Regions from separate parts of the Homo sapiens genome. Here regions 2, 3 and 4 are each linked to region 1. Evidence: fine-mapped expression QTL. A gene starts in region 1. Each other region holds a variant in brackets. All regions are shown on one strand. Distances are from middle to middle.

Region 1 (8,102 bases):
GAATACCTATACAGGTTTAAGGGCTGGAGGGTGAGTTCCCAGACAGCCCAAGGTATTTCCACAACCTGCCTTCCCAGAGGCAGGTGAACAAGATGCCATTCAAGACCTAGGTATTTTAGGTTCAAGCTGAGGAGCCAGTCTTTCCAGCCCGGACCAGGTTTCCATCCAGGCTCCATTGCATACCAGCTGTGTGACCTTCAACTTCTCACCATGTGGTTTCAGGGCCTCAGAAGACTGGATCCTGCACCCAGTGCTCAATTCCTGGACATGGTCTTCTAATTCCTACAGGGTGGCACAGCTTCATCCTATTTTACAGAGGAAGAAACAGATGCAAAGGGAATTGCAGGGCCGGGACTAGTGGGAGGCACCCAGGGCTCAAACTATGAGAAGGCATTCACCTGGAGGGGCTATCTGCACCTATGCCCACCCAAGAGTGAGTGCCTATTACATGGTGAGCCCTGGGAACAAGTTCGCCTCCCCCTAGCACCGGCCATGGTGAGTGGCTAAGTGGTAGCATTATGATTTGAAGTCAGGTCTTCTGATAAACCCAGTGCTCATTCTGTGATAGTTCATTTGCTCTCTCATTAATTCACTCAGCAAACGTGCAGCGAGCCCCCACTATGCACAAGGCATGTGCTAGGCTCAGGGGTGCACCAGGCATTTCTGAAGGACAGAGACTTGCTTTCTCTGCCTCAATTTCTTCATCTGTAACATGCAGGTTGTTATAAGGATCTGGTCGACTCTGGGCCGAGCCAGCATGCTCACTCTGGAGGCAGAAATGGTCACCAAGAGGGGCCCAGCCCACCCTGGCCTGTCCCCTGCTTCATCCAGAGCTACCCCTGCCTACCCTTCTTGGCCCAGGAGGCTGCCTGGATGTTTATTTGGTTATTAGATAACCAGGCCTGGGCACCATTTCTTTGATCAGTTACCCCTGATAACAAGCAGAGGAAACAGACCATTTTATAGCAAGATTTTGTGGGGTGATCTTATGATCCCATGGTGTTTTTAACAGGGACAAGGATGAAGAGGTAGGCATTTGGAGGGGAGGGGGAAGGAAAAGAGGCCCTGCTCTGCAATACTTTCCTCCTGATTCCCCCTGGACTTTGATTCTGGGGGAAGGGGTGGTGTGGGAGATAAACGTGGAGCAAGAAGGCTGGGTCCCACTCACAGACATCTGACTCAAGGCCGCTTCCCTCACACCCAGCAAGACCCCCTGAATCCTCCCAAAACCTCACCCGCAGCAGCTCTGACCACCCAGCGAGGGCCCCTGCAGTTAACAGCCCAGGAAAGCCCAGCTACGGAGGCCAAGATGCGATAATGCCCACAGACGTGACTTAACGGCCAACACAGAGCTGAGGCTTCTCCCCAAAACAGCCTTATGATTGCTGCCGTTTCAAAAGCTCTCAAGCGATTACTCGGTAAGAAAGAGGTCAGGAACCAAGCGTATATCACCCTTCCCTGAGCAAAATGCAAGATCTGGATAACATAACTTTTTTCTTTTTTTGATTAAAAATAAATATATGTTTGAAGACAATAAATGAGTTTTAGCTTCGGTTCCTTCTTTTGCTCTTGTTTGATCTGCTTGTGAGTTGAGGACAGCCTTGTTCAAACACTATTTGTCCATTTTCTTTGCTTTTTTCTATTTGTGGGGTAAAATCTGTGTTATCTCAACAGGGTCAGCTCACCTGCATTGCGCTTCTGTTTCCTCACCTGGAAAGTGAGGAACGCTGGACCCGTCAGTCTCCAGTGCCCTTTACAGCTGCCCACACCCTCCCAAGTGTCGCCCCATCACAAGGGTGAGGATGCAGCAGGCGCAGGGCCCACCTGTAACTCTCAGCCTCAACAGCTGGGGTTTAGCTAGGATGTAGAAAAAGCACTTTTTTTTTTTGAGACAAGGTCTTGCTCTGTCACCCAGGCTGGAGTGCAGTGGCACAATCATAGCTCACTGCAGCCTCGACCACCCAGGCTCAAGAGATCCTCCCACGTCAGCCTCCCGAGTAGCCGGGACCACAGGCATGTGCCACTACACCTGGAGGATTTTTGTATTTTTTCTAGAGATGGTGTTTTGCCATGTTGCCCAGGCTGGAGAGAAAAAGTACTTTGGAGTCGTGTTTCCCCCATTATTCACACACCTCTTCGAAAAGAAGCCGTTATTATAAAACAGGCCTTTTCTTTTGGGGTCCTCAGATTTGGAAAGGAGCAGAAAACCCAGTGAGACAGGACGTGTCCTGGAGACACAGCGCGGTGGTTGGAAGCAGGGATCCGGGAGTTCTGCCACCTTCCAGCTGCCTGGCCTCAGGACAGTGGCCCAAACTCTCTGAACTCAGTTGCCCCAGTTTGTAAAATGGCCTGACCGTAATTCCCACTTCTTGTCAATTTGTTCAGGTATAAAGTACATGCATATAAAGTACTCAACCTAACTAGTGCCTGGCCCATGCCACAGTCTCAATAATTATCAGCAAATCCTCTCATTTATAAATAAGCCAGTACAACTATTAATACACAAGCATCATACTTTGTGGAAAAGTTCGTATCTCTAACAGCAGTACAATAAGTTCTGAAAATACTGAATTATGACCCTATGTAGGACATCAATGTAACACCCATTCTCCCCACAAAATGCCACTAATGCGTGAACCCCCATCAGCCGCCTGGGACTTTGAAATACCCACATCCGGAAAGCCCAGAGACTGAAGTCTCAAATGATTATGGCCAGAATAGCATGTAGTTTTAACTTTTTTTTTTTTTTTTTTGAGATGGAGTTTCACTCTTGTCACACAGGCTGGAGTGCAATGGCATGATCTCAGCTCACTGCAACCTCCGCCTCCCAGGTTCAAGTGATTCTCCTGCCTCAGCCTCTGGAGTAGCTAGGATTACTGACGCCCGCCACCACGCCCAGCTAATTTTTGTATTTTTAGTAGAGCCGGGGTTTCACCATGTTGGCCAGGCTGCTCTTAAACTCCTGACCTCAGGTGACCCACCCGTCTGGCTCTCCCAAAGAGCTGGGATTACAGGTGTGTGCCACGGCACCCGGCCTTAGCATGTAGTTTTTAAACTACCCATAATTGTAAATTTTGTACATTGAAAGACCCATAATTGCCACAAATAATCACAATTATGCAAGTATAAATAATCACCCTGCACAACTCTCCTCTTGCCCACAAAGTTATCCCTTTCATGAGAATTTAATATGTGACAATGGCCATTGTCTGCCAGGGAAAGCTCATACCGATTTCAGTTTCAGCAAGGCCACCTCGAGTCTCATAGAAACCAGAAAAAAAAAATGTCATTTTCAGGAAGCAAATTGATCGTTTTCCTCACATTTCCATTTGCGTTAAGATCATGGTGTGGCCTTGCTCTGGACTTTTTCCTATTCCCTGTTGCCTCTGGAGAGGAGGAAAGCTAAGGATGGCTGGTGGGCCCACATCGGGGGTCCCTGGGTGGATTGAAGGGCTCTTGTGGCTCCTGGAAGCCTCGCCCAAGTTTCTGGTAAGAAATCAAAAGGTGAGGTGGTGTCCCCTGTTCCCCTGTGGGATGATCAGCCCACAAAAGTGGGACAAATGAGTCTATAAAATGCTTCAGAGGGGCAGGTGGACTGCTCACTCGTGAGTCCCGGGAAACAGGCCTGGCCCAGTTCTCCAAACCTTTCCCCAGGGAGACCGCATCTCTGTCTTCTCTCTTCTTCTCTCTTCTCTCTTGTTCTCTCTTCTCTCTCTTCTCTCTTCTCTCTCCCCCTCCCTCCTCCTTCCTGGTTCTCTTTTTTCTGTTGATTTCACTCCCTCCTTTCTTTTCCCTTTCTCTTTCCTCCCCTTTCTCTCTCTTTCTCTGCCTGTTTCCCCTTTCCTCACTTTCATTTCTCTTTCTGTCTCTTTCTTTCTCTCCCTCTCTCAGGTCTCTCTTCTCTGTCTCTCTTCATCCTCAGTTTTCCCCTCTCTCCCCTCTTACTTTCTTTCCCTTTTTCCTTTTTCTTTCCATCTTCTTCCTCTCCCTCTCTGGGTTCGTGGCAACACAAGGAAACCCGCACATCCCCAGCCCGCAGCCTCGCCCCCTCGGTCCCACTGCAGTTACCCGGTGATCCATGCAGGTGGGAACAATCCAGTTAACTTTTCCCATCCGAGTGATTCTCTTTCTCTTCTTCATTCATAAATGCCATAACTCTCCCGGTCCTCCTTTCCAAGGCTCGTGCACTTGATTTCAAGGCTTGCCTGCCACCCAGGGTGCCACCAGAGTCCCAGTGCCTGGGTTGGGGGCTGGAGCGCACCCTTTGGGATCCCCCAGCCTGTCCTCCGCCTCACGGCTGCCTCGCTTCTGAGCTGCCACCCTCAGCTGACTCACTCAGATGAGATTTGGGAGGGAGGGGGGCAGGAGGAGGAGTTGCGAGAAGGAGGAAAACCCGCCTGGTCGGGTCCACACTTTGCCTAGATGCGTTTGGGTGTGGTGGGGAGCGGGTGACGGCCTCATTTACAGACAGAGGCCGGGGCTGGCTTCTAGGCGACCGGGTTGGCCACTTTCACTGCGCTTCTGGGTTTGCTGGGATCCAAGTTGACGCGACTTTTCCAGGAGTAGCTGGAAGACCTGAATAGAAACTTCAGGGGTCCCAGGACTGGCGGGGCTTAGAGGAACTCCCCGCCCCGCTTGCCCTTCCAGGGAACGGCCTGGCTAGGGGTGCGCTTTGACGCAAGGAGCGCATCGCTCTGCCTTGGCCGGGACCAGAGCTTGGGGGAGGCCTCCTTGCCCACTGCGAAGACTTTGGGGAAGGCGACGGCCAGGGGACGGACATCTGGGGGAGGGCTGGGGGTCTGAATGGCAGGAGCTGCACCAGGGGGCTGTGCGCGCTGCGCGGGTGTGCGCGCCTCGCCGGGGGCTGTCTCCACCTCTTCTGGCAAGTTGGACCTATGAGTGCGCAGCTCCGCTTACAACTATCAACAGCCGGGAAGGCTGAGCGCGTGTGAGCGCCGAGGGGGGCGCAGGACCCTCGCAACTTCTTCGCAGGACTCCAGCCTGGCCGCCGGCGCCCGCAGCCGTCCGAGAGCCCTGCGCCCGCGCCTCCCCTTGCGCACCGTGGCAGCGCCCGGCGGGCGGTCCTGCCAGCCCCGACGGGATGCCCGCAGCCATGCTCCCCTACGCTTGCGTCCTGGTGCTTTTGGGAGGTAGGTGCCACCCTCCCCCACCCGGCAAACTGGCTGAGCTCGGAAGGGAGGGAGCTCGCCGTCTAATGTCCCCTAAGGGCCCTTGGGGACTACGGCCCTGGGTCGGCCCACGCGGCTGCTATGCTGCGCCCTGCGCGCCTTTCTCCAGTCTCACCTGGCCGGCACCTGCGCGCCTCCAGGAGCTTCCTGGGGCCTGCGGGAGGGAGTCGCGTCACCTCGCAATATGAGAGCCGCTGCACTCTCTGCGCCAGTCGGGGCCTGGCCTGTAGGTACCCAGAGCTGCCCTTTGTGCCGGGCCCAGTGGGACCGGGGCCTCCAAGAAGATGCAGGAGGATCCCAGGCCCACTGAGACCCCCATGGTGCGGGACAAGCCCGGCTATTCAGACCAAGGTTACTGGGGTTGTTTTTGCCCACGGAATCCTGACCTGTGCGGGGTCGGGGCTTCTTCCTGCAGCAGGACTCGGGGAGAAGCTAGGGAGCGCGCAGTGACCCCAGGCTCGAGTTGTGCCCAGCAGGCCTGACAAAGGGGACCAAGGGGCTTCAGGAACCCCTGGTAGAGTAGTCAATGCCTTCTCCAGGACTAAGGGGTTCCCTGGTGGCTCTTCGTGGGGGTGGGGAGTAGGGTAGACAAAACTGTACAAAGGCCAGCTGACTGGAGTGTGCCATCACAGGGGCCCAGTCACCACTGACAAAAATGACAGTAACCACAGTTGAAGTGTGCCCAGCTGGGGGCTCATCCCCAAGCACCCTCACATTATGAATGGCTGAGAATTCTGGCCCTGGAGTTAGACCACCTGGCTGGGAAGCCCAGATCAACATCATATCAACCCGTCTGGCTTTGGGTAAGCATGGCCATCGGCTCTCTCAGCCTTGACTTTCTTTCCTGTCAAATGGGCTCACAAAATCCCCTCCTCCGTCTGGGATGATTGTGAAGATTACGAGAGCACGTGCAGGAGGATCACTCCACTTGCTGCCTGGCACTGAGCTCATGTTCAGGGAATGGCAGCCGAGAACCCCGGGGTGAAGAGGGGCTGCGCGGTCCCACAGAGCACGCTCTGCTCCATGTATAGGCAAGGAGCAAAGTCTAAGTCACCTCGAGGAGCTCTTCAATCACAGTCTTTTCTTCCCAGCCCCCAAATTTCTAAACAAGCTGTTTTGAGAAGAACTGGCAGGGGTCTGAAGGAGGGTCAGGGGAGGGTGCCTCCGCAGTTTGAAGAGTTGCAGATTCACCTGTCGAAAGGGACATTCATCCAGGGGCCGCTTCCCCTGCCAGTCTGGGAGCGAGAGGTGACACAGCTGTCCTTGGCCACAGAGTTAGTTGATCATCAGCATGAAAATAGACCACCTCACCCCTGCTGGTTCTTTCGAAAGGGCAGGAAAATGCAAACTGGAAAGGGTGACAAGGGGGCCAGCTGTGGAAGCGCGCCTCTGCTGGGTGCTGAGATAGGGAGGACAGGATGGGGAAACCGGGTGTCCATCTGCTCTCATCCGCCTCCTCCAGGCCGTTGCACCCAGTGGGAATGGAACAGTCTAGAGTGGTGGGACACATGCCCCAGGAACCTGCAGTCTCAGTCACAGCACATGGCTGTTGTCTTTGGCAGGCCGGAGCTTCCCGTCATGCCAATGAAATCACTGTGAGTGTAGAGCCGTGGCTGGCTCTTGGGGAGTCTTGCTGCCCAGCTCCTCGGTGACCTTTCACCACAGCAAATCAGACAGATTCAACAGCAGAGAAGCCAAGAGTGCCCGGGGGCCTGACGAGAGAGGGGGGCAGCCTGCCCTCAATTCAGACACAGCCACCAGAAAGGGGGAGGGTGCCGTTCAGCCTGCCACTGCAGCTCCCAGCTCTACACCGGGCACTATTTTCCACTGAACGCTTCTTTGAAAAGCTCTTTTCACCGCTGGCTACATCACCAGGTGATGAGATCCTTTTGCTTTAGTAAAAGGAAACAGGACCCAGTTAATCCTTCAGCTACTGACATAATTTAGGTGCCTGAGCTGGGCACGCCTGAACTTCATGTCTCCAGGTTCCAGAAACTATATATATAATGGCACACCAGCCACCCCACCAAGAGAATTCAGATTGAGTACACACACGTTAGGGGTTCTTAACCTCGCCGCTATTGACATTTGGCACCAGAGGATTCTTTGTTGGGGATGAGGGGCCCGTCCTGTGCATTTTGGGGTGCTTAGCAGTATCCCTGCCCTCTTCCTACAGATGCCAGTTGCACCTCCTCCTAGTTATGATAACTGAAAATGTCTCCAGATATGACCACATGTCTCCAGGTGATAAAGTGGCCCCCAGTTGAGAATCACTGGTATGAACAGATCAAACCCAACAGGTAGTTTTTCAGACGAATCCGTCAAAATCACTGGGTTAGACGGATTTTGTTATTCTTGCTCTGAACGATCAGGAAATCAAAGGCACAGTGGGGCCCCAAGAAAAACAACATAGCTTAGGTAGTTTCTAATTTGGACGTTGATTTTTCCCATTTGCTCTCCCTCCCTCTTGTATCTGAACATGTCCGCATGGCGGCCGCAGGAGCCAGGCTGCGGTATGGGTAGTCACCCACTGCAGCGAACCTTCCTTCAAACCCTGTCAGGCCAGATGTGTCTGGTGCCAGTTCTCCAGCTGCCAGTGTTGGTTCACTCCACAGCAATTTCTGGCTTTTAAAAATCTCATTACTCAACAATTTATGCTGGAGGGGGAAAATGAGAAACCATAGCTGCTGCTTTTTTTTCGAACTTGTATTTTTTTTTTCTAATTTCAGCTCTGCTTTTATCTCTCGCTATATACTTTGCGATGGCAAGTTATCATTTACAGTCAGATTAACTAGGTCAAAATCACAAGCTATTCCATAATAAATTAGTTGATGTGGAGCTCTGCCTTGAAACCCAGAATAAAAACTAAGAAGAAAATTACTTAAATACACTCATCCAAAAATCTAATGTGAA
Region 2 (8,102 bases), 98 kb before region 1:
AGAAAAGAGGAGATACGATCTGATACACTTAGACTTCAAATCCAAACCTTGAAAGTCCCACCCAGTGGGGGACTCTTGCCGCCTTGAGAGAAGCACAGCTGATGTACGGAAAGCAATATTGTAAACATAACAAATAAATACAAATCAAAACCACAAGAGACCATGTGATGCCCATGGCTGAAATAAAAAAGACAGACAATAACAAGTGTCGACAAGGAGACAGAGCAATTGGAACCTTCATTCACTGCTGATGGCAACATAAAAGGTGCAGCTGCTTTGGAAAAGGATCTGGCTGCTCCTCAAAAAGTTAAACACAGAGCTACCACATGACGTACTATTCCACTCCACTCCTAGGTGCATTCCCAGGAGAAATGGAAACATAGGTTCACACAGAAACTTGCAGACAAGTATTCATAGCAGCAATATTCGTCCTAGCCAAAATGTAGAAATAGTCCAAGTGTGCATCAGCTGATGCATCGCACCAACAAACATGGTTCATCCAGATGACAGGGTATCATCCAGCCACAAAAAGGAAGGAAGCGGTGATCCAGGCCACAGCATGGATGAACCCCGGAAATGTTATGCTAAGTAAAAGAAGCCAGACACAAAGGAGCACATATTGTATAAATCCATTTACATGAAATGTCCAGAATAGGGAAGGCCATAGGGACAGAAAATAGATTTGTGTTGGCTTTGAGCTGGAGGGGAGGGCAGAAGCAGAATGGGGTGACTGCTAACGCAATGGGCTTTCTTTTGGGGGTGAATGCTCTAAAATATAGTCTGATTATGGTTACACAGCTCTGTAAATGTACTGAAAGCCATCGCAATGGGTGAATTGCATGGCCTATGAATTAGATCTCAATGCAGCTGTTAGAAACAATGGTGGGTTCAGGTCTGGACTCAGCCACTTCCTCGTCTTGTGACCTCAATGCTCCTCTCTGAGCCCTGAGTCCTTCATGGCACAGCCACGAGATCTGTCTCGAGGTGGTTGTGGGAGATGAAATGAGATACTCCACAGAGAGGACTTGGCTCCCAGCTGGGCAGAGAGCGAACCCTCGGTCCACTTACACAGCACCTATTCAGGGAGTGCTTCCTGACATGCCCGGGGACTGGAGAGGGACAAGATAGGGTCTTCCCTCTCACACTGATCTGCATGGCTGGCCCACACCTCTCAGTTCCTCAAACCTTCCAAAGAACACCAGCAATCAGAGATGCTGGGTTGCTCCATCACTGTTGGCCAAATGACCTCGGGAGAGGAGAAGCAGAGCAGGGTTTGGGGAGCAGACCCCCACGTCTGACAGCATACCAGCTCAGAGCATGGCGAGAATTCCAGCACAAGGTGCACACATTTTTTTGCCCATGGCTGTGGTGACCCTGCTGTGTGCCAGCCTCAGCCCCACAAGGTCACCTGAGCTATGTTCCTGGTCCCAGCTCACCCAGCCTCTTCAAGGAAGCCGTTACCTGCACCGTTTGATGGGTTAGGGCCCCTGAACCCAAACATAGCCCCTTGATCTGCCTCCACCCCACTTTCCTTGCCAGGTCTCTAAGATCTAGCATTCCGTGGGCCCCTGCCCTGCCTCCATGGCCCCAGAAGTGCCAACCATACTGGTGCCATGCTGCCTCCAGCTCCGAGCTGGGGTGTCCTATACTCAGCCAGTGGCTTCTGCCTCTCCCCTGGTCCTTTCCCCCTTTCTCTCTCCCTTTTGCATGGAAAGCATTTCACACTCATTCCTCTAAAAACAGCGTCACGGTTGGGCCCAGGCACCAACCTGAGCTCTCCCTGCCCACCTGCCTCGCTGCTCTTGGTCAGAGGAAACACATTAAGGAGAGGAAGAGCGTGTGGACAGCTGTCCTGGCTACTCTTTCCTGTACTTCCCTCAAAGCAGCCCAGCCCTGGCCTGTTGGGCCGAGGAACCGTTTGCACCCTGCAGACAGTGGGGATCCCAGGCGTGGGTTCGTGCTGCCTGCATTCTCGGAGTCCACAGGCCCGGCGGACACACACATAGTGTCCATGATGACCAGGAAAGCACACCATGGTCCGTTGTGGGGCTGTGGGTGGTGATAGTGGGGAGGGGGGGTACACTCTGGGATCAGCTTGACTGTGGGTCCCCTGCCCAACGGCCGTGAGACGCTGGCTGAATGGCTGGGCCACTAAAACCTCTGTTTCTTCATTGGTGAAATGACGATGGCTGTTGTGAGGTCACAGTGAACAAAGGCAAGCAAAATGGCTTCGCCTTGCACCCGGAGGACACTCCGGTGATTGGCAGCACATTGTTGATTGACACATATACTGCTGAGGTGGCACACACAACCACATGGTCCGTGTCTCTCATTTCTAAACAAACATGAGCTCATGCAAGGACCTGGTGCCAGGCAACTTGGATCTAGGCCCACAGTGAAGAGGATCCTGGGGCCAGAGGGGAGACGCGAGGACGAGGTAGGGGCTCACCTGCGCCAGGCACAGTTGCAAATGCCTTACGTATACCAATCACCCCCTACTCCCCACTGTGACTCTACAGGGGAGGCACAGCCATTAGCCTCATTTGACAGACAAGAATGGTGAGGCTCAGAGAGCTGAAGTCACTGCCCCAAGTCACAGAGTGAGCTAGTGGCAGAGACTCATGGAAGTTGTCCTCCAACAGAAATCCCAAACAACATGGGCTCAGGTCCGAGGTGTACTGCTTAGGAGCTTGGTGGCTTTTGGGGTGCCCCTTGCACTCCTGTGCCTCAGCTTCCTCACCTCGGGACAGAGGTGCATGTGCCCACTTCTGACTGAGCCTCCAGGGTGGAGGAGGATGAAGGGCTGCAGGGCTGCACGTTGCATATACCCCAAAGTGGCGGAGCATCCCTACTGCCTTCGGTGCCATTGGAGCACCCAGGGACGCATGGGTGAGGCAGTGAGCCGCCCGTGTAGCCTCACCTGCTAGAGACGGGAGCACATGGAGGCCCTTGTGCGGCCCTGAGCAGTCAGGTGGGTCACCCTGTGAAGAAAGGGCAAAGCAGCCTCACTAGTGACCCCGGGACCCAGGGAGGCTCCGTGCACAGGCTGCCGGGGCTACTGCTGCTGCCGGAGCCCCTCTCCCAGGCCAAGCCTCTGCCTGCTCCAGTGCGGATGTATAGGCAGATGTGTGAGGGTTGGGCTGCTGAAGTTAGGGCTCTCTGAGGCCCCTGTCATGTCAGGGCGGCTCCCAAGCAGCCTGTTCTCTGCTGCCAGCAGCATCTCCCACCCCACCGTGAGGCTGCAGCTCCCTCCTCTCATGCCCCTAAGGAGACAGGCACCCTGTTCTTTGCGTGTGCTAAAGCACCGCACCCCTATTTTTGCCTAGCTCACTCCCGCTTATCTTTCCTCCAGCCCCAGAAGGGCCCTGTTGACCCCTAGCCCCATTCTTTGCCCCCAAGACACTCTGTCCTTTCTTCCCTAGCTCAGGGCTGCTGGGAGAGCCTGATTCGTCGTCTCTCTACCCACTAGACTGCAAACTCTGAGGGACTTGTGTGTTGGGGTCTCTGGGCCCCCAGCATCCAGTGCTCTAGGAAGAATTGTGGAAGGACAGGAGGCAGTGGGGAAGGAAGGTTTCCTCTCATACCAGCCAAAGCCAGAAGGGCCCAGTGAGTGTTAATCAAAGAGTCCTCCCTGGAGGAGGTGGCTGATGGGGCCTAAGAGGTCTGGGCCCAGCCTCAGGACCCATTGTCTGCTGCTGTTGCCCAGCTTCATGTCTGATCCCCACACAAACCCTCCTGCCATTGACCTCTCCCGGGGCTGGGGCCGACACAGCCTTGGGCCACTGTGTCCCGGGAGAACCAGGGCCCGTGTCAGGCCTTTCCCTCCTTTTCACCGGCCTCATCAGGGCATTTTTGGAGAAACAAATTCCCGGCATCTCAGGGCTGTGGGCTGCTGGCGGCCAGCTTCCTGGTTTGCCCAAGACTAAAGCAGGCCCAGGGGCCTGGCATCTAATCTGGGGACCCTGATGGTGTTGGCCGGCCGCGTAATTGGCATGAGGTGGCAGCGGCAGCCACTGTGCCAGGGGACAAGTCCATGAGGCTCCTGAGTACCTGAAGTCCGGGCCTTATTTAATTTTGTCCTTTTCAATTAAAATCACCCCTCTCTCCCTTCTGCAGAAACAGACAGGCTCAGACAAACATGGAGTGAATTTCGTTCCAAGATGGTTCCCCACCACCTTTTTTCTTTTTCTTTTCCTTTTCTGTTTTCTTTTTTCTTTTTTTTTTTTTTTTTGAGGCAGGATGTTGATCTGTTGCCCAGGCTGGAATGCAGTGGCACAATCTCAGCTAGCTGCAGCCTCAACCTCCCGAGCTCAAGCAATCTTTTCGCCTTAGCCTCCCAAGCAGCTAGGACCACAGGCATATGCCACCACGGCTGGAGAATTTTTGTATTTTTTGTATACACAGGGTCTCACTATGTTGCCCAGGCTGGTCTCGAACTCCTGGGCTCAAGTGATCCTCCTGCCTCAGCCTCCCCAAGTGCTGGGATTACAGGCATGAGCCATTGCACCTGGCCTTTTTCCCATTTTCTTTCCTGAGTACATATCTCTAACCTTTCTCCCTGGAACATTAATCAGGGTCTGTGCTCTAGGAAGCTCCCACCTCTTCTTCCCTCTGTCCCTCTCTTCCTTTTTCTTTTTTTACTAGGGAATGGCCAGTGGCTGTGTCCTCAGAGGGTGGGGAGGGAGAAGCAAGCACCACACGCGGTGAATACAGCTTCAAATATCTGGAGCTTCGGGAAGCCAACGCCATCCAAATGGTGTCTTATGTTAAAGCAATAGAGGAAAAGTGAGAAAACTTTTCTACCTCCACCTCCCACCCAGCCCCCTCCTTAAAAGGAAAAAAAAAAAAGGTTTCTGTACACTCAAGTTCCCACAGTGATACAATGTAAGTTTTTAAAACAACACAAACATTGACCTTGGCAGATGGCCCCGTGGAAAGAATAGGCATTATCGACACAACGGAATGACTTAAGAAGACAAGGTGCCTCCCCAAGGAAGCAGAGAACATGGC[G/A]GCTTTGCAAGAGTCTATTCACAGGACGCCAGAGTCAACAGGCCCTGACCCCTGCGGGCCTGAGGGGGCCCCAGACAGCCCCTCCCGCAGCCGCCTCCTGGAACTCTCTGCCCTTGGGTCCTCAGGGTGCCTTCACTTGTTGATTGTGACCTTACGGATTTAAGAACCCAGCCGGGGTGTGCTTTCCGCCAGGCACGGGGGGCCACAGTGGCACCCTCTGCCCCTCAACCTGGCGGGGGACACAGGCACGCTTGGTGGCCAAGACTTCTGTCCCATTTAGGATTGAGGAGCAGATCCTGGGGAGCTAGCCAAATACTGTTAGCTGATCAGTGAAAGCTCTGGTCACTAGAAAAGAGAGAGGGAGGAAGAGGGAGGGAGGGAGGAAAAGGGGGGAAGGAGGGAGGGAGGGAGGGAGGGAGTCTTCCTCTCAAGCCAGCATGGGTCCGAAATCCAGCTCTGCCCTTTCTAACCATGAGACCTTGCAGGCGTTCCTCAAACCACGTTTGTGACACGAGAGCCAGTGACAGTTCCTGGCTTGCGGGTTGTTGGAAGGCAAAAAGGAAGCTACTGCTTTACAAACACACACTTAGGTCAGAGCCTGGCCCAAGGCTGGCACAGTGACTGTTTTACCATGGGGGAACGAGGCCAGGAAGGCATGGCAGGCAGGTGGCTCCAGGTGGGACCTGAGGGAGGCCTGCAGGTTCTGGCCGGGGGCTGTTGGCAAGAGTCCTGCCCCAGGCTCCAGCTCTCTGGAAGTGAATGTGTGTTCCCTCCATGCCCTGGGAGACACCAGGCTGGGCCAGAGCCAGTCCTGGCCTCATGGACTGTCTGCAGCACAGAGCATTTCCTAGGACCTCAGGGCCAGGAGCCCAGGCCTGTACTCATCACCTCTAGAGAGGGGGAAACTGAGGCCCAGAGAAGTCGTCACCTGCCCAGTTCAAGCTCAGTGTCCCCCACTGGCTGGAGACAGCCAAGAAACCCTGTGCAGCCCCACCTCCCTCCCCTGGCACCTCCACCTGGGGGCTCAGTGGCAGGGTGCATGCCACATGGTCTCCAGGCCTGTGCCCCATCCAGCCACGTCCCAGCCAGGCAGGGTGCTGCTGTGGCCATCCTCTCTGGGGACCGGGCAGAAGGAAGTTTCCACAGAGGTGCTCTGAGCTCACAGAGCCTGAGGGCCTCCCAGGCCTTGTCTAGTCGTCAGCTCTGATTAGTGCCACCTGTCCTGTTTATCCGGATTTGCTGCCTAATCAAATCCTGAGTCCCTTAGTCACCTTGCTTACGCGTCCAGAGGCAACAGACAAATTTTAGGAAAATGCTCCTTGCAGAGAAATGTAAGTGCCAGGGCCTGAGCAGTGTTGCATTCCTGTGCCCTCTGAAACCTCCCAGGCAGAGTCCTTTCCCTGGGTCCTGGGTAGGGGTTCCAGAAACTTCCCTGAGATATTGACACAAAAGGAATCTCTGCTGTCAGTGTCTACAGCTGTAAAATGGGATGGCAACCGCAGCAAATGACGAGCGCAGCCAAGGTCTCGGTGGGCTTCATCCCCACAACAAGCAGGTACTGAGGGCTGGCGGGGCCCTGGACTGGGAAGTGGCGGGCAGGAAGCAGGCAAGACAAAGCCCCCAGCCCATGGAGCTTGTCATCTTTCACGGGGAGAAGGACAGGAAACACGCACACAGAGAATGGTTGTTCGTGATTAGAGCAACACAAAAATGAAACAGGGATATGATGACGAGAAGACCTGGGGAGGGGAGGGGAGGGCGTGTGACGTCCACTTCACCCTGGATGGTCTGGGAAGGCCTGTCAGGGGAGGGGACGGTTGACTGGGGGACTTGGAGGCTGAGAAGGCCCCAGCCACGGGGAGAGAGTTCCAGGCAGTGGAATGGCCTGTGCTAAGGTCCTGAGGCGGGACAGGCTTGCTGTGTTCTGGAGCAGTGGGTGGCCAGTGGGCTGATGAGCAGGGATGGGCGGGCAGGCTGGACCACGTGGGGCCTCGTAAGGTCTCCGTGGGATCCCAGGAGAGCGAGTCTTCACTGTGGGTCCGGACCAGGAAAGCGAGGGGCTCACCGTCTGGGAAGTCGTGTGAAGGGGATAGACTCCTCCCTCCCCACCTCAGCCAGGTCAGGCATGGAGAGGGTAAGGGGGCAGCTGGCCGCAGTGGCCCAGGCTCCCTGCATGTGGAGCTGGGTTATGCATGGAGGACACGTTGCTCTGAAGTCAGTGCTCAGATAGGGGTGTTCCATAGAGTCCTGAGCACCCTGCCACTGTGCAAAGTGCTTCACGTGCTCGGTTGGTGCTCCTGCCCTAGGCTGGCACCCGGCCCCTCCTCTGGAGCCCAGGACAGCCCTTAGTGGTTGAGGCTAGAGCCAGACCAGATGCCCAGGAGAAGCAGTTAGGGGCCAACCTTGAACCTCACCCTTCCTTACAGTTTCCCCTCAATGAGCACCATTGACCCCCAAGTTCCTTGCATGTCATAATTAACAATCTTAATCAATAATAATCATAGCTTGCATTTACTGAGTGTTTACTGTGTGCCAGGCACTGAACTACACATACCACACAAATCAACCCATCTAATCTACACAAAACTGCACGAGACAGGTGCTCTAATTAGCTCTGCTTCCAGATGAGAGAAACTGAGGCACAGAAAAGTCAAGCAACTTGCCCAATGTCACACAGCTGGCAAGTGGCAGAGCCAGGAAGGGACCTCCAACAGTATGGCTCCTAAACCCAAGCTTGCAACCAGTCCTTCCTCTGTGACACCTGCTGTGAGTAGTAATAACAGCAAAGCAGCTGAAGTTTGCTGAGCACCTGCTGTGTTCCAGGAACCATCTTTGTAAGCTTTTGCCATTCTTCACCCCTGCAAGGAGGCTTTTAAGGCATTTTTTCCTAATAGCTCTCTCCGATGACACTTTAACGCCACAGGTATACTGGGTGTCTGTTTAGGTACTGTTCAGGTATCCATGCTTTAAATGTAAAGAGTAAAATATGTTTTTCCCCCTTGGGAAGCAAATTCCGTCCTGTTGGGACTGCATGCTCTGCCCAGATGAACTCATTCATTCCTCAACAACTCCATAGGTGAGGAGGATGATGA
Region 3 (8,102 bases), 27 kb before region 1:
CATTTTGTAACTGAGGGATCCGAGGCTCAGCGGGGTCGGGAGGCTTGCCTCAAATCACCCAGCCATAAACAACAGCCCCGGACGTCAGCCAGGGTCGCAGGCTCCCAGCCTGTGGTGTGTTTCAACTAATCAGTTACACTGATTAAATGCCCGGTGGGGGTGGGTGGGGGGCAGCTGCCGGGGCTGGAGAGCTGGCCCTAGCCAGGCCTCCAGCGGCTCCTTTCTGGGGAAGTACAGGTCATGTCAGCCTTGCTTTGAATCCTGCCCCAGTTTTCCACCAAGGAGCCCGATGGCAGCAATGAAGGAGAGCCCCCTTCTCTTATCACCCTACTCCTGTAAGAATCCTATTCCACCTAGAGGGAAAAGAATAGGCAGTGAGTCCACTCAGGTCATCTTGAAGGCAACCCAGGGAATACGTGGCTGACTCAAGAACCCTGGACGTCACAGATTGGTGCCGATCACATGCAGACCACCATTTTACCATCAGGGCAAGCATCAATTTTAGGGTACCATGTTAACAAGGGCACAGATGATGCCAGAACCCAGCTGTCCCCAAAATCCTGGCACAGGGCAGAGCAAGCTGGGGCACACCGTGGGCACTACAGTTGAGAACCTGAAGGAATGAGCCAGGCCCGCCCTGGCTCTCCAAAGGGTGGCCTTCTCGGGCGCTCAGCCTGATTTTGCTCAATTTCTCCTCCTGCCTCTTGTGCTAAGTTAGAAGGACAGATGACATCATTCCTCCTCAGGCCCATTAACCACATGGATCGATGGCAAGAAATAAAATTTGGATTCTTCAAAAATCTCCACAGCAGATGGCCCCAGGAGACCAATTGCAACGAGATTCCTAATTAAATATAATTAAATAAGCATTAAGAGAGAGACTGATGCTCCCCTCTCCACATTACACCACTCTGTGCCAAAGAGTACAAAATTGAGAACGCCATTGTCCGCAAAAAAGCCACAAAGATCATTCAACTCCAGCCTCTGATGACCGAGCTGGGAAAACTGAGACCGGAGGGGCTACAAATTCAGCCAAGGTCTGCAGGATGTGGGGCTGACGACAAAAAGCTGACTGAGAAACTGACTCATGCACAAGTGCCCATTCTGGGGTCATGTTGTTAGCATCTAAAAGGCCCGGACACTTGCATGCTGGGCGGCCTTGGGCATGATCCTTTAGTCTCTGGGCCTCTTTTTCTTTCTTTCTTTCTTTCTTTTTTTTTTTTTTTAACTGAGTCTCACTCTGTCACCCACGCTGGAGTGCAGTGACGTGATCTTGGCTCACTGCAACCTCCGCCTCCCAGGTTCAAGCAATTCTCCTGACTCAGCCTCCTAAGTAGCATGCCACCACGCCCGCTAATTTTTGCCTTTTTAGTAGAGATGGGGTTTCATCATGTTGTCCAGGCTGGTCTCAAACTCCTGACCTCAGGTGATCCGCCCACTTTGGCCTCCCAGAGTGCTGGGATTACAGGTCTGTGTGTCTTTTCTTCTTCTAAGATCAGTGCCTTAGAAGTATGATGTGAATCACATCCATAATTTTTTATTTCCTAGCCACATTTTCAAAAAGTAAAAACAAATGGGTACACAATCAAAAGAATACAATTTTCGTTATACATTTTATATCACCCAAATCCCAGCATGTAATCAATATAAAAGTTATTGAGTACTTAACACTTTTTTTTTTCACCTCAAGTCTGAAATCTGGTGAATGTTTGACATTTACAACTTGTCTCTGTATGGACTGGCCACATTTCAAACGCAGTAACGAATGGTGACCATATTGGCCAGTGCGGGTCCAGAAGATGGGCCTGAGATAGTCTCTCACAGGTTGTTGTGAGTTGGGTTTTGTTTTTGTTTGTTTGTTTGTTTTTAAATAAACATGATGTGGCTGGGCATGGTAGCTCAGGCCTATAATCCCAGCACTTTGGAAGGCCAAGGTGGGTGGCTTGCTTGAGCCTAGGAGTTCAAGACCAGCCTGGGCAACATGGGGAGACCACATCTCTACAAAACTACAAAAAATACAAAAGAATTTAGCCAGGCGTGGTGGCATGTGCCTGTGGTCCCAGCTACCCGGGAGGCTGAGGTGGGAAGATTGCTTGAGCCCTTTCAAAGGCAGAGGCTGCAGTGAGTGGTGATTGCACCACCGCACTCCAGCCTGGGCAACAGAGTGAGAGTCTGTCTCAAAAAAAATAATAAAATAAAATAAACAATTAAGAAGATAAACATGATGTGAAATGTGCTTAGCAGCATCCTCACGTCTCATTAGCACCCAGTGAATATTAGCTACGATGATTATCAGAAAGCCAGTGTCCACACAGTTCATCCAGAAAGCACGACAGTCCATGGCTCCTATTTACCAAATCTTCTCTTTCAATTCCCTTCCACAGACACAACCCCTAACAGAACAACTGTGGGGGGAGGGATTTCTTTAGTCTCTGGGTAAAGCTATCAAAAACAAATGGCGGCTTCTCGAGCTCGCCCTTAAAGCAATCGGTGGATCCCAAGATTAAAATTCAACTGCAGCCAAATTGTGTTATAAACGGCTTCACTCCACCTGGGGTCTGGACGCCAGGCAGATGTAATCCCCTCTCCTGGGCATACACTGATGGAAACCCCGCCTCACTGCACCAGCCAAAGCCTTTAAATCAGCCGTTATTCCCGGCCTGACATGAGAGTTACAACAGGGTTTTACAGGCCCTCTGCAGGGCTCTCTAAATTTTGTGGCCGTAGCTTCCTATGGCTAGCAATCCAAATAAAAATAGTGCTATTGATCACAAAGGCATCAATAACGTCAGCCCTAAAGCTACCTGTGCACATTTCTAATTGTCCTGTCCTTTTTATGTCTTTAAATATTACCATAAGCTCTGAGAGATTCGCTACCTCTGATTGGGAAGAAGGAAATCACCCCCTCCGCTCAGTCCCAGGCATTGGAAAGCAGTGGGGAGGAAAACTCACGCGCTAGGAATAACTGTGAAGTCCCTTTTTGTAAAAAAGAAAATAAAACACTGGCTCCCATGTTGAGCTTGGCATTATAGTTCGTCAGGAAATGCCGCCCAATTATGCCTAATTTCTCATTGTTTTTCCGACCGGTTTGCGTCCCAGCAATTACGCCTCGTTCGCAGTAAGAGAAAAGTAAAATGCCCAGCTGGTAGACTGATCAGAAAGCCGACAGCCAATAAATTAATCAAGAAATAAGGAATGAATGCTGTGTTTGATGTTTGCAAATCACACA[T/C]GTGGCTCTCCAGATGCTTGGACTTAATTTTTACCACCACAAAAACCAAGAAAGAGGAAACTGGGAGTGACTCCAGCAGCTAAGCAAACCCTCCCCAGCAAAGCAACTGTTCAGCTACCTCTGGAATCTTCTCACCTTCAGCATACTGCCAAGAAAAAAGAGCACCCCCACCCACCCACAAACCCCCAAGAGCCTTAGGCATGAACCTTTCTGGGGTCCACGCAAGTGTGTGCAATGTGGAAGAAAATTATGGGCTCCAAAATTCAACAAGAAAGCCACAAAATCAAAATTAATAAATGCTTCATTAAACGCCTGCCAACTATAGCAGTGCAGCCTCCTCACTGCTTGCTGGGTGCTGTATTGATGATGTCGTCGTCATAAAAACTGCATTACGTTTGAGAAAACCATTGCAAGAATGCCTAAGGATGCCTATTGGTTGTGGGGCAAATCACAGGTAATTGCAACTTTGATGAATTACCTGCTGCTAGATAATTTAAGAAGCAAAATCATTAAACTCCTTTCAAATATTTTTACTGCAAACAAACTATAGTTAGTGTGGGCGTATTTTAATTCGTTTGATACGATGGGGAACAAGGCTGCCAAATAAAACACCCCCCTGGACCTAACAAGAGGCCAAGGTGTGTGCAGGCTTAGGCCGCTCTTCAGGTGCCCCCCGGGGCTGGGGGCCCGCTCCCTCAAACAGGTAGCTCAGGAAGCCCTAGCCATCTGCAGGGATCCGGTGGCTGTGTTCCAGTAAAGGCCAGCAAAACATGTCCAGTCTCCAAAGGGGACGGACACCATCATCTTTGGCATTCATGTCACGCTTCAAAGGCCAGAGTCCCCCGCTCCCCCTCCTGCAATGAGCCACCCGTTTCTGCCGCTGCTCTCCTGCGTGTCCACGGCTGAGGGTGCGAGCTGGTAATTACATGCTCGCTTAGGCAGGGACGCTTCCAAGCAGCGCTGGAGAGCTGATTAACCACCTGGTTTGTGGGCACAATTCAAAGGGGCACCTGGGAGGCAGGCCACAGTGACTCGTAGCACGGTTGCCAGGCGGATGTGTGCACAAGGGAAAAAAATGCTCCCGTGTCAGGACAGCTCCATGCTCTGCCTTCCCAAGGTCTCACCCACTCAGCCAAAGACCCTGGCACTTTGAAGGTTCCCTGTGGACATGAAGGCACCCTGGAAAGGGCTGTGGGACCAACAGCTCCATGAATTGCCACCAGGGTGATTTTGCGCCCTCTCACCCAGAAGCATTTGGCAATGTCTGAAGACATTTTTGGTTGTTGCAATGGGAGAAGGGGCTGCTCACAGAATCCAGTGGGTGGGAGCAGGAAGGCTACTAAACCTCCCGTGATACACAGGTCAGTCCCCACCACCCCAGTGACTCAGCCCCAAAGATCCGTCCCCACCACCCCAGTGACTCAGCCCCAAAGATCCGTCCCCACCACCCCAGTGACTCAGCCCCAAAGATCCGTCCCCACCACCCCAGTGACTCAGCCCCAAAGATCCGTCCCCACCACCCCAGTGACTCAGCCCCAAAGATCCGTCCCCACCACCCCAGTGACTCAGCCCCAAAGATCTGTCCCCACCACCCCAGTGACTCAGCCCCAAAGATCTGTCCCCACCACCCCAGTGACTCAGCCCCAAATGTCAGTCGCACATCAGTTGAGAAACTCTGACTTAGAGAACCATCCAGACCCAAGCGGCCTGCCTCTTGAAGAGTCTTTCCTGGGGACTGCTTACAACTCAGGAGGGCAGGAGAACTGAAGGTGGGGGCCCTGACAGTACACCCAGGTCTCCAGGCTGGAGGAGAAACTGTGTGGGGTCTCTTGGGTTAGAGAAAACCTCCTTTTTTTTGGCAGCCCTTGGAGCTGGATGTATTTTTGATGGAATCAGACCTCAAATGAGGTTGTGAATCACCAACTTCAAGAAGAAAGAGCTCTCCCGTTATGCCCATAAGTTAAAGACGAGGCACCTTAGTGCTCTCCTCAGGAGCCTCAAACCTCCAGCGATGGGTTCCCTGTCTTTTCTCTCTGTGAGCAACATTCCGTCCTTTCATGTAGATTTCCCTTTTAAGGAGAGTTGGTTCTGTCTGGGGCCAGTTTAGATTATTTTTTCAAATAAAAGAACATCAGAAAAGATTAATCATAGCCCGAAATGGAAAGGGACGAAGCTGCAGCCTGTCGTGACCTTCTCGTTTGCTTCGTGATAGCCTGCCTAGCCTTGGATGGAGGCCGGGGCTGGAGTGGGTGGTGATTTTTTCCAAGTGGCCCTCAGCTCTGAACCTCACTCACTGCAGTGGCTGTGATAACTTCTTGGATTTATGAATAAAGTGGCAACCTTAAAAATATTCGTTTGGAGTTTCACAATGGAAGTAGTGATGATCAACACATTCAGCCACTGTGTGATCAGATATAATTTGGGGGCTGTTGGTGGAATTGCCTTGTGTTGGCAAAGGTATGAGATTAGCACTCTGAAAAAACAATAACTAATTCCCGTGTTCCTAGGAGCAGGGTAGATATTAACTCTATTTTCCAGGAGATGAAACTAACATAGAAAGGTTAGGCAAGCTTTGCCCTGCTCCACAGAGAACTGGCCCTGGAGTGGAAATTAGGACCCCAATGTTGCGGGCACCAAACAAGGGATCAAACCTTCATCCACATGACAAATTACAGCTTGAAAAATCCCTTCATCGGTGCTCAGGCCTGACAGCACCCCATAACCACTGATTCGAATGGAAATAAGGATGGAGAAGAGAGGAGAGGGCTGCAGAGGAGAAGGTGGGAGTGGGGAGGGCCCGGATTCCCAGCAGGCATGAGAGTGTGTGAGCTGCACTGAGAATTTCCCCTGATGCGAACCTCCAGCTTTTTTCTAGTTCCAAACACCCTCCTTGTAAATAGGAGGATCTGAGAAACATCTCTGGAAGCAAAGCCCCATCAGCCAATTCCAGGGCTTACAGCTCGGCTGCAAGATGCAAGGAAGAGCCACGATGGATGATTCTTAATGGTGGGAGAGGAGTTCTGAAAAATGACCCTTTGCTTTCTTTCATAACTTTTCAGGAAACGCTGCACAATTATCCTTCTCTTTCCTTGCTTAAAAGTTGAACTGAGCCATTAACCTCAGCAAACGAACACAGGAACAGAAAACCAAATGCCGGATGTTCTCACTTGTAAGTGGGAGCTGAACAATGAGAACACATGGACACAGGGAGGGGAACAACACACACTGGGGCCTGTGTAGGGGGATAGTGGGGGAAAGCATCATGATAAATAGCTAATGCATGTGGGGTTTAATACCTAGGTGATGGGCTGATGGGGGCAGCAAACCACCATGGCACACGTTTACCCATGTAACAAACCTGCACATCCTGCACATGGATCCCGAAATGTAAAATTAAAAAAAAAATTGAACTGAAATTAATTTTTTAAAAAACGAGCTAGTTGTAAAAGAAAACCATAATGTCCCACCAGTGGGTAATTTCTTCTTGATTAAAGATGGGGGCTGTTGATAAAGCTGATGCCCACTAACTTCATAACAAATGGAGATCCATGTCTCATGCTCTTTTATGACTTGAGCCTCGTCTGGATGGGTTTTCCGTGCAAGGAGGGAACATTTTAGGATGTGATTTTTCTTGTAAGAAAGTGGAACAAAGTAAACAGGAGTGGGATCACTGGGAATTGGGGGATGGGGGTGGGTACCGTGGATGAAGGTGGGTACCATGGTGGATCAGGCTGGCAAACCCCAAAACCTCTGAGGAAGCTTAACAGACAAACAGACATCACGTGGAATGAGGCAGTACAAGTATACAATGACAACTCTGATGAATTCTTGCCAAAAAAGTCAAATATGAACATCATCAAACTTCTAGATCTTACTGAGAGCTAGCTACAGGTTTGCAGGACACACAGGGGACAGAGGAACATATCAGAAGACACCATCCCATCAGCAAAATCAAGATTATGGCAAAGGCTACAGGATGGGTGATATGGTTTCCAATAGAAAAATAAGAAAATAAAAAAGGGAATGGAGATTCACTAAAGATTTCCAAAACCAAATCAACCAAATGCAATGTGTGGATCTTCTTTGGATCTTAATTTAAACAAAGCATTTATGAGGCCATCAATGGAATTGCAACATTGACTGGGTATTATATGATATTTTAAAATGACTGTCCATTTTTGAGGCACAGTAATGGTATTACATTGTAGTGAATGACTTGTGAATGAAATGATAGGATGTGTTCACTTTAAAATAGAGGTGGGGAGAGAATATGGGAATTCAGTGAAACAAGATTGGCATGTTGATAACGGTTTAAGCTGGGAGATGGTTACATGAGAGTTTACTATATGATTCTATTTTTTATAGACTCAAAAATTTCTGCAATGAAATATGGGAATTTGATGAAACAAGATTGGCATGTTGATAACTGTGGAAGCTGGGAGATGGGTATATAAATTTCTGCGGTGAATAATTAAAAGAAGAAAAGGTATCTAGAGATGGCAGGATAAAGAGACCAGCATCTATTTTCCAATGATTGACTGCTATAGACACCAAACTTCTCAAATGTCTGCAAGGGGCAAGTGACAGAAACAGGGATAGAGCAGTCAACAGTTCCAATAGGGCCCTGCCCTTGTGAAATTCAGCCTGGTGGGAGACATAGACGATAATCAAATAGTCACACAAACACATGACTGCACAATGGTGTGTGTTAGAAAGGTGAAATAGACAAAGCACACAATAGCATGGCCTAACTCAGTTTGGGGTTCAGGCAAATTGTCATTAGTCATTGGTGCAACCCTCCAAATATCTCAGTTCTCTCTCCTTCTGAGTACAAGATGCGACTGAACTTCCTGGCCCCTGTGGTCAATGTGGC
Region 4 (8,102 bases), 57 kb before region 1:
GTCCAGTGCCTATTGCATAGGGTTCGGTGCTGAGTTGTCTCCATTTTACAGAAGGACTGAGGCTGGAGTCCACACGGCTCACTCCGAATTACAGAGCTAGCCGGAGGAAGAGTAGTGGTTGAGACTCCCCAGCCCGCAACTGTGACCCACGCTGGCCATGATTCCCTTGACCCCTGAGGGAACCAGCCCAGAACTGCCTGGCAGGGCCTCTGGGAGCTTGGAGCTCTTCTTAGAGACCCTGCCTGTCCCACTGATGCTGACGAAGAGGCCAGACTGTAAGGCGGTGAGGCGTGAAGCTCAATACCCATCCATGGGTCACACAAGCCATCTGCAGATATCTGCTTCCATGAGGCTCCTTGGATGGCCTTGGGGAGTTGATGGAGGTAGAGACGAGGGCAGCCTGGCATGGGGGGAGATGAAATTCCGACACTAAATAACCCAAGCGGAGCAGCTGCTCCATTTCTGCAGGAGCAGGATGTGAAATGAAGCATGAGCTTGGGGACGGCTCCTCCAAGGCGCCTTGTGAAGGACATTAACCACGCTGGAGCCCGTGCACTCGTCCCTACACTGCACACTATTGAGCACATACTAAATGCTAGCCTGTGCTAGGTGCTGGGACTAGAGACAAGCAGACAGAGGCCCTGCCCTCAGAAAGCTCTCAGTTGAGCGAGGGAGCACGGACAATAAAGCTAAGGTCCTGTCCATGCCAGGGCGACCTGTGCATGATAAAGGTTGTGACGGCAGAACCTGGTGTTCCAAGCTCCAGAAGGAGACTTAGTCCAAGATGCACATCCCAAACAGCAAACACGCCTTAGAGAAAGCAAAGGGAATGCCACTCTTTCACTTGCATCTTTTGATAGACAACAGTAAAAGCAGCATCGAAGGGAGCCCAATTCACAACACAGAAAAACATTTCTTATACCCTATTTTCTCCTCTCCCCCAACTCTGCCATCCCGCATTTCCCTGAGACTCTTATTTGCTTAACCTCCATCCCCAAAACTCACTCTTGCCCCAGCACTCCACAGCTCTTTCTTTTTCCTCTTTACTTTCTCTCCTAGCCCCCTTTTTTTTTTTTTTTTTTTGAGATGGAGTCTCACTCTGTCACCCAGGCTGGAGTGCAGTGGCATGATCTCGGCTCCCTGCAACCTCTGCCTCCCTAGTTCCAGCGATTCTCCTGCCCCAGCCTCCTGAGTAGCTGGGACTATAGGCGCACGCCACCACCTCCAGCTAATTTTTGTATTTTTTAGTAGAGATGGGATTTCACCATATTGGCCAGGCTGGTCTTGAACTCCTGACCTCATGATCCACCCACCTCAGCCTCCCAAAGAGCTGGGATTACAGGCGTGAGCCACCGGACCCAGCCTTCTCCTAGTTCTTTTAAATGTAGGTTTGCAGGCTCTCCCCAAGGAAAGGAAGGGGCATTTCTCTCCTCCTTGCCCCTTTCTCAGCTCATGCTGTGAACCTTGGCTTGTAGGAGGTAGCCATGCAGCTCAGTTTACCTGGCCAGTCCTGACATGCACCTGGTGCCCTGAAAAAATGTTTAATAGCTCCTCCTCTCACTCCCCAAAATGGCCCCGTTTGATCAATAAATTATATAGTCCCTCTATCAGTATATCACCTCCTGGTGAGGCGCATCACCTCCTCCAAGCCCTCTCCATATATGTCTCCTGATATCATCCTCTTTCAAGACAGCCTACACTTCCTCCCTCGTGGGGCTTCTTACTTTGAAATTTATTGTTTTGTTTGAGGTCAGGAAATCTGTTTCCTTTTCCACCTACACTGGGACCCATACAGTGCTTGGGACATTGTAACCACTAAATACATATTAGTGGGTGGATGGATGGATGGATGGATGGATGGATGGATGGATGGAGAGATAGATGGAGGAAGGGAATGAGGGAGGGAGGGAAAGATAAGTGGCAGGATGGTGGGTGGTGAGATGGATGTTTGGTGGGAGAAATGGTAGAAGGGATAGATAAATGAATGGGTTTTAGGGAAACCAGTCAGGAAGCTAGTGCAGTCATCTAAGGAAGATAAGGTGGTGACCTGGGAGGAGTTGAAGATGGAGATAAGTGGGTGATTTTGACATGTCTTCTGGAGATGGACTCAAATGGACTTGGCCATGCTCGGTGAAGAATAGACATGAACTCAGGCTTCCTGCTTGGATCCTGACCACAGCCTTCACTCCCCAAGCACCTTACCTGACAGGCAAAATCCCTACTGTTGCTGTTTCTTGAGGTAGCAGCTTACTGTCATGAAAATAGTTTCAGAGGCGAACTGGAATGAGTGACCCACACCAGTTCCAGGAAGCAGGGCCTGTGGGCTGGAAGAGGCAGGCCTCCAGAGCAGCCTCCACCGGCCTTGCAGGTGCCTCTCAATCACTCCTCCTTAAAGGCACAAGAACCCTTGCTGGTTAATAAAGAGTCCTTAAAACCCTCCAAAGGTGGAACACCACTCCCACGACACAACATCAAAAGTTAAATGGAAAATCTGGGATTCCATCTATCAGCACAGAGCTCAAGCACCTTCTGTTCGGAGTGAAGTGAGCGGCCACTCTGAGCTTCAGTTTGCTTCTGTGTAATACAGAGATCATAGCAGTACCTGTCTCCCAAACCAGTTGGAAGATAATGTGAGAACACGGTCACATAAGGCTCCAAGCAGTGCCTCCCTGACCCATGCGGCGACTGCTGTTTGTGCTGGGGCTTTATACACATATATAAGGACATATTTATTTTATCCCCATAACCAGCCTCCAGGTCGGTCTTTCTCTTTCCGGTTTGCTGATGAGGAAACTTATACTTGGAGCACCCCCAGCCTCCCTCCAGTTTTGTGCAGACAGCGGAAGTGGTCACTGCAGGCTCCACATGGATGGGCCAGGTTGCTGTGCCCGGCCTGGACAGAATCCGATGTGTTTCATTTTCTGAGTTGATCCAGGACAGGAGCCAGTACACTTTTCCTGCGAAAGACCAAACAGTAAACATTTTTGGCTTTGTAGGCCGTTGGGTCTCCGTGGTAACTATCAAACCCTGCCCTTGTCCCACAGAAGCAGCCATAAGCAAGACATCCACAAATGAGCGTGGCTGCATTCCAATAAAACTTTATTTACAAAAACAAGCCCAGGCCAACCCCTGCTCTAGCACAGAGAATAAAAATTCTTTAGGTGTACATTTTGCTTCAGATATCAGTTGTCGGGTTTGTACACGTCCAAGGGTTAGAATTGGGCAGTGAAAGCAGCCCATGTCCCAGTGTTTTCTGTGAGAAGGCATGTAGCGAATTCCTCCCTGACAGTTCTCCTGGGGAGGATGCTGAAGTGGGTTTTCTGGTTGAATGTTAAGCTCTCCAAATTGCTATGTCCGTGGAGATATTTTCTTCCTTCCCTCTCTCAGCATCTTTTAGGAAGCACAAACCACTCTTTCTTTGTTGGTGGGCGGTAAAGGCAGCAGGCCAGGGGATTGAGAGACAGGTCACCTCCCAGAATTACTCAGTGGCCACCATCTTAGAACCACTTTCTCCTGGGAATACATGCATGATGTGAATAAACGTGATTTTCAGTAGGAAGAAAGTTCAAATGTGTTCTCTAAAGGGGCATGTTACTTCTGGATGCCAACTTGCTTCTTAGAAATGTTTTTTCCGGCTGGGCATGGTGGCTCACGCCTCTAAATTCCAGCACTTTGGGAGGCCAAGGCAAGTGGATCGCCTGAGATCAGGAGTTCAAGACCAGCCTGGCCAACATGGTGAAACCCCGTCTCTACTAAAAATGCAAAAATTAGCCAGCTGTGGTGGTGGGTGCCTGTAATCCCAGCTACTCAAGAGGCTGAGACAGGAGAATCACTTGAACCCAGGAGGTGGAGGTTGCAGTGAGCCAAGATTGTGCCACCACACTCCAGCCTGAGTGACAGAGCTAGACTCCATCTAAAAAAAAAAAAAAAAAAAAAAAATGTTTTTTCCAGAAGGCGGGGCTAGGGGGTGGTGAGGCTACGAGTAAACCTTAGGTCTTCTGTCTTCTTTCCATTGAGCTAGTGGCTTCCAATGCCATCATGCGTAGGTAGCAGGAAGGAATGGGGTGGAGGAGGGGAGCTGAAAACGGATTTTTTGGAA[C/A]TCTGGGCACATTTAGAACAGAATTGTAACTGTATAATGTTATGGTATCATTTAACTGACATGTCTACTTTGGAATGTTTATAACTACCGTAAATCAAGAGGCCACCAAGCCAGGGCAGCGGCCACACGTAGACATTCCAAGGAAAACGTATAAAATAAATAAAATAATCACACAGTATCAACATTCCATTCCTGGCTAGAAAACGGAAAATGTAACTGCCCCTGCAAAAATGCAAGCGCCCAGAGATGAATGTGCTCGGAGCCGAGGCAGCTGGGGCCTCCTCACGAGTGCTCAATAAAGATGTCAAGTGGGAAAAGGTTAGGAAGTCAGTAAGAACAAAATGTTTGACCCAGTCGAGCAGTACTGGCCCTGCTACCTTGGTTTGCGAGACCCTAACATCGGCATTCCTCCTTATGGTCTATGGGCGACTGTGATTTTCTGCGTTGCGGGGGCATAGTCCAAACAGTTTTTGTGACTTCCCTCTTTATGACTTCTGTCCAACTTACATTATCTAAAGAAAAATAAAGATTTGTTATCCCCAAGGCATAAAATTCTACAGATTTACAAACTGTTGGATTTCTGACCTTAGTGATTGTTTTTGGGCTTAAACTACTTTTCTTTCTTGACCAGTGGCTTGTAAAGCACACATCAAAATGAATTCTGGCTAGATAAACATCTGGTCATTAAAACTGTGCAGGTCTTTGGTTTGAAGGCAGCCGCTGTAGCATTCTTAGGACACCTGGTACTTCTCTTCACTCCAGACTCTGGGTGCATGACAGCAGAGGCCCAGCCATGAATCCTAAAACTGTAGGGTTTCTTTTTGTTTTTTTAAGTGGTAGCAAAACTCTTTTGAGCCGTCTTTCTTGTCTTAGAGCCTTTGAGGTATGTACAAGCTTGGGTAATAAAAACTACCAAAAGTTAAAAATTAATAACCACAGGGACTCCTCACATCTTGGAGGACTTTGAAGCAGTCTTTCTCCCAGGAGAGGATCTTTGCTTTCTGACAGCACTGGAAGAAAATGACCCAGTCGTTTCCCCTAAAATTAAGAAGACTGTTCTGAGGTATTTTGTAGACATTCCGCTTTTGTCTTTTTGAGTTTAATGTTTCTTTGTTCATCGAATGAGGAAAATGGACAAACTGTGGATTCTTCAGAGCTTGGATTTGGGGTAGGGAAATGCATTTTTTTCCTCTGATGGCCTGAGAAAGGTTTAGAAAGTTTAAAGGTACTAAAGCCCCCAAACCCACAGAAAAAAGAATTTCCAAGGAGGGCGGTAAGAGTCGCAGAGACAGGGCACACCCCAACCATTTCAGCCTATAGGTGAGCTGAGCTTCCTTCCCCCTGGACCTTAATTTGAGAAGAAAAAAAAGAAAAAATCTTCAATCTCATGATCTAGAATTCATATTTTTAGCCCAGGACAGAAATGCAAAGGATAAGTGCGGCTATTCGACCAAGTCTCCCTTCTTTCTTGGTGCTTTTCAAACCACGTTGGTTCTGAGAGTTCTTTCCACATCTCTGTGGGCTTGGGTTGTAAATGCCTGGCTCCTGGGACTGTCAGTGGCTGGTGGGGGGTGGGGGAGGGGGGCTGGGGTCTGACTGATGACCCCTACCTTTGGAGCTTCTCAAATGAGGGTTCCATCCACGATCAGCAGACGGCAGTGCTCTCTCCCCTCTGGCCCTCCCCTGAACGCTTTGCTCCCTGTCCATGAATGGGAAAGAAAGTATGCCTGCCAAGTACTCCATTTCCAAACAGAACAGGCAGAGATATCGCTTGCAGAATTCCAGATGTTGGTATTTGTATTATTGGATCACAATTACATTTCACAAAAATTACTGCAAAGAAAAAAGAAATGACTGCTCCCTAGAAGTGAGATTTATTGTCCGTTTCTGTCCTTTGTCTGCCTCCTCGCATGGCCTCATCTCTCACTGGGCCTCTGGTGATTTATTATTTCGGGGACCCCAGAGGGGACACAGTACTGCCTTTCTGTAAAGGTCACGTGGTGAAAGCCAGCTTTATCCGGGTCAGAAATTGCCCTCAGACACCAAGGGGAAACCCTGGATGAAGTTAATCAACATCCACCCCATGGCAGGTCGGTGAGCCCACGCTGGGCGGGAGAGGATTGACCTCGTGGTGGTCGGACCTTTGCACCACCCGCTCCTCTCCAGATGAAGACATTGATGTTTTCATATCATTTGTGGTTCTGATCTGATCTCCCCTCCCAGAAGAAATCCTAAAAAATTAATGCTGTATGGAATGATGCTTTCAAAAAAAGTCATTTCGCTTAGGCCTTTGTTTTTCTCCCATAGATGAGGGGAGGGGGGACCTCACATTTCTCCATAGCCAGCCCCTGATCTGCAAGCTGAGGTCCCAGGGGTGCCCAAGTGGGAGTTCAGGGCCTGTTTAGCATGACCACCACGCGGACAAAAAGGTAAAGGGAGCCAAATGGCAACTCGACCTTGCCCCATTCTTCCGGTTACGAGGCACCCGCAGGGGTTGTCCGAGGTGACACTTCTAAGCTTTGGCAGCCTTGAAACCCACTGCCATACCAGCCACATCTGCGAGGCGACTACATGACCTTGGAGGAGGGAGGGAGTTTCACCCACACTGTGCTGGCCAGGACCCACGTGCACACACTTCACGTTAACCAGCCCACGGCACTACAGGGAGCATCTGCAGGAAGACTTTGTTCCGAGTCAGAGGGCCCCCAACCCCCCCAAACTTCCCTTTTTCTCCAGTTAAAGGGACACAACCAGGTAGGTAGAGCTGCCCAGGAAAAGCCTCTTACGCAATGACACGAGGGAAGTGGTGTGAGCAGTAGAGGGTTCTTGCAAATCGTCCTTAATTCCATTAATAAATGCCTACAAACCCCAAACGCAGCGTTGCCCCTTCCTTGGCTTAGGAAAAAGAGTTAAGAAAGATCATCAGCAGAAATGTGCTGGCCTATGTGGGTCTGGGTCTGGGACTGGGTACCCAGGGCCGGGGCTGGCAGCCTTTCATGGAACTAAGCTGGAGGCCCCAACTCCCGGGCACTCCGGATGGAGCTCTCCTGCGGCTCCCAGCACCCCGACGGCATGGGCAGAGGAACACGCCGGGATCGGTACAATTATGGTGACTGACTGTCTGCAGCTCGATATTAATCTTTCAAAAAGGCTCTGCTTTGTAGGGAAGGTATTAGGTGGCTCCAACAACTTCTTAAAAACGTTCCTCTTTCTTTACAGAATGTCAAGTGAGATTTCAAGGGGGAATACTTCATAACCCAGGTATGTTTTCCTTAGGGCAATAAACCGCCATTGAATTTACACGCCTGCCCCCCAGACCTCTGGATTTCTAGCCAAAACCTTCATCTGTTTTTCAGAGAAAAAAAAAAAAGGTTGGGGGAGGTGTTTTCTTCAAATGCACGGAAGGCCTCTCCTGGGTGGCAGAAGGAAAGTTAGGCAAACTTTATAAATCTAGCGGGAGAGCTGTTTTTGGCAGTGCTGGAAAGTGGAGTGGGGTTTTTCTGTCGGCCTCACTTAAAACATCACCAAGCGGGCCCCCCGACGGCCCCGGTGTGCGGAGGGGTGGGTGGGCGCCCATGTGTGGAGGAGGCAGGCTGGCTGTGGCTCTGGACAGCCACCATCCTGTCTCAGCCCCCACAAGGAGGGTAGAGTGGGAGAGGGTGGGACTGCATGAGGAGGGAATGCTGGAGTTAAGTAAGGAGCAACAGCTGCAGTCCCGGGGAACAAAACGAGGCAGGACCCAATGGATTTCTCATCAACTGTGTGGGAGTCATTGGCAAAGGGAGGTGTCCGCACACCCCCAGCTCGACCCCCTCCTGCAGCAGCACCAGCAGGGAGACCCCACAAGTGCGGCAAGCTCGGTGCAGAGATGACCCCCATCCATGGCCGGTGGCCAGGAGGGTGGCAGGTGAGGGCTCTCTGGGGGAGGAACGGGTATCTTGGGAGACCACAGCTGTGCAGCTGGGAGGAACAGCCAGGGGCCGGCGCCTGCTTTCTGCTGAGC

Alleles and levels. Alleles are on the strand shown, and positions count from the first base shown. SD is a standard deviation of normalised expression in the study named. Not every link is listed here.
As copies of G replace A in region 2, the expression in unexposed skin of the gene that starts at base 4,410 in region 1 goes down (small effect, 0.38 SD a copy in GTEx).
As copies of A replace C in region 4, the expression in transverse colon of the gene that starts at base 4,410 in region 1 goes up (small effect, 0.26 SD a copy in GTEx).

What was found.
Region 2: its variant is fine-mapped to the expression of APCDD1L in unexposed skin (GTEx, PIP above 0.99). The same link has a PIP of 0.9 or more in aorta, atrial appendage and sun-exposed skin.
Region 3: its variant is fine-mapped to the expression of APCDD1L in monocytes after LPS (Quach 2016, PIP 0.95). The same link has a PIP of 0.9 or more in monocytes, monocytes after Pam3CSK4 and monocytes after R848.
Region 4: its variant is fine-mapped to the expression of APCDD1L in transverse colon (GTEx, PIP above 0.99).

What each region holds. Positions count from the first base shown.
Region 1 is chr20:58,511,707-58,519,808 of GRCh38, reverse strand. It overlaps APCDD1L (APC down-regulated 1 like), which reads left to right and starts at 4,410. Exons shown (of 4, transcript NM_153360.3): 1 at 4,410-5,150. The coding sequence starts at 5,102. APCDD1L-DT (APCDD1L divergent transcript) reads right to left here and starts at 4,430. Exons shown (of 7, transcript NR_034147.1): 1 at 4,069-4,430; 2 at 210-305. RefSeq lists an enhancer at 4,809-5,807.
Region 2 is chr20:58,609,462-58,617,563 of GRCh38, reverse strand. The region is part of intron 6 of APCDD1L-DT (APCDD1L divergent transcript); the gene reads right to left. Among named protein-coding and RNA genes, the nearest start is that of LINC01711, 21 kb to the left of the region's middle. RefSeq lists an enhancer at 7,064-7,565. The variant G/A (reference allele first, on the strand shown) is at 5,011.
Region 3 is chr20:58,538,971-58,547,072 of GRCh38, reverse strand. All of the region lies in intron 5 of APCDD1L-DT (APCDD1L divergent transcript), which reads right to left. Among named protein-coding and RNA genes, the nearest start is that of APCDD1L, 28 kb to the right of the region's middle. RefSeq lists enhancers at 511-1,012, 4,291-5,490. The variant T/C (reference allele first, on the strand shown) is at 3,230.
Region 4 is chr20:58,568,431-58,576,532 of GRCh38, reverse strand. All of the region lies in intron 6 of APCDD1L-DT (APCDD1L divergent transcript), which reads right to left. Among named protein-coding and RNA genes, the nearest start is that of APCDD1L, 57 kb to the right of the region's middle. The variant C/A (reference allele first, on the strand shown) is at 4,100.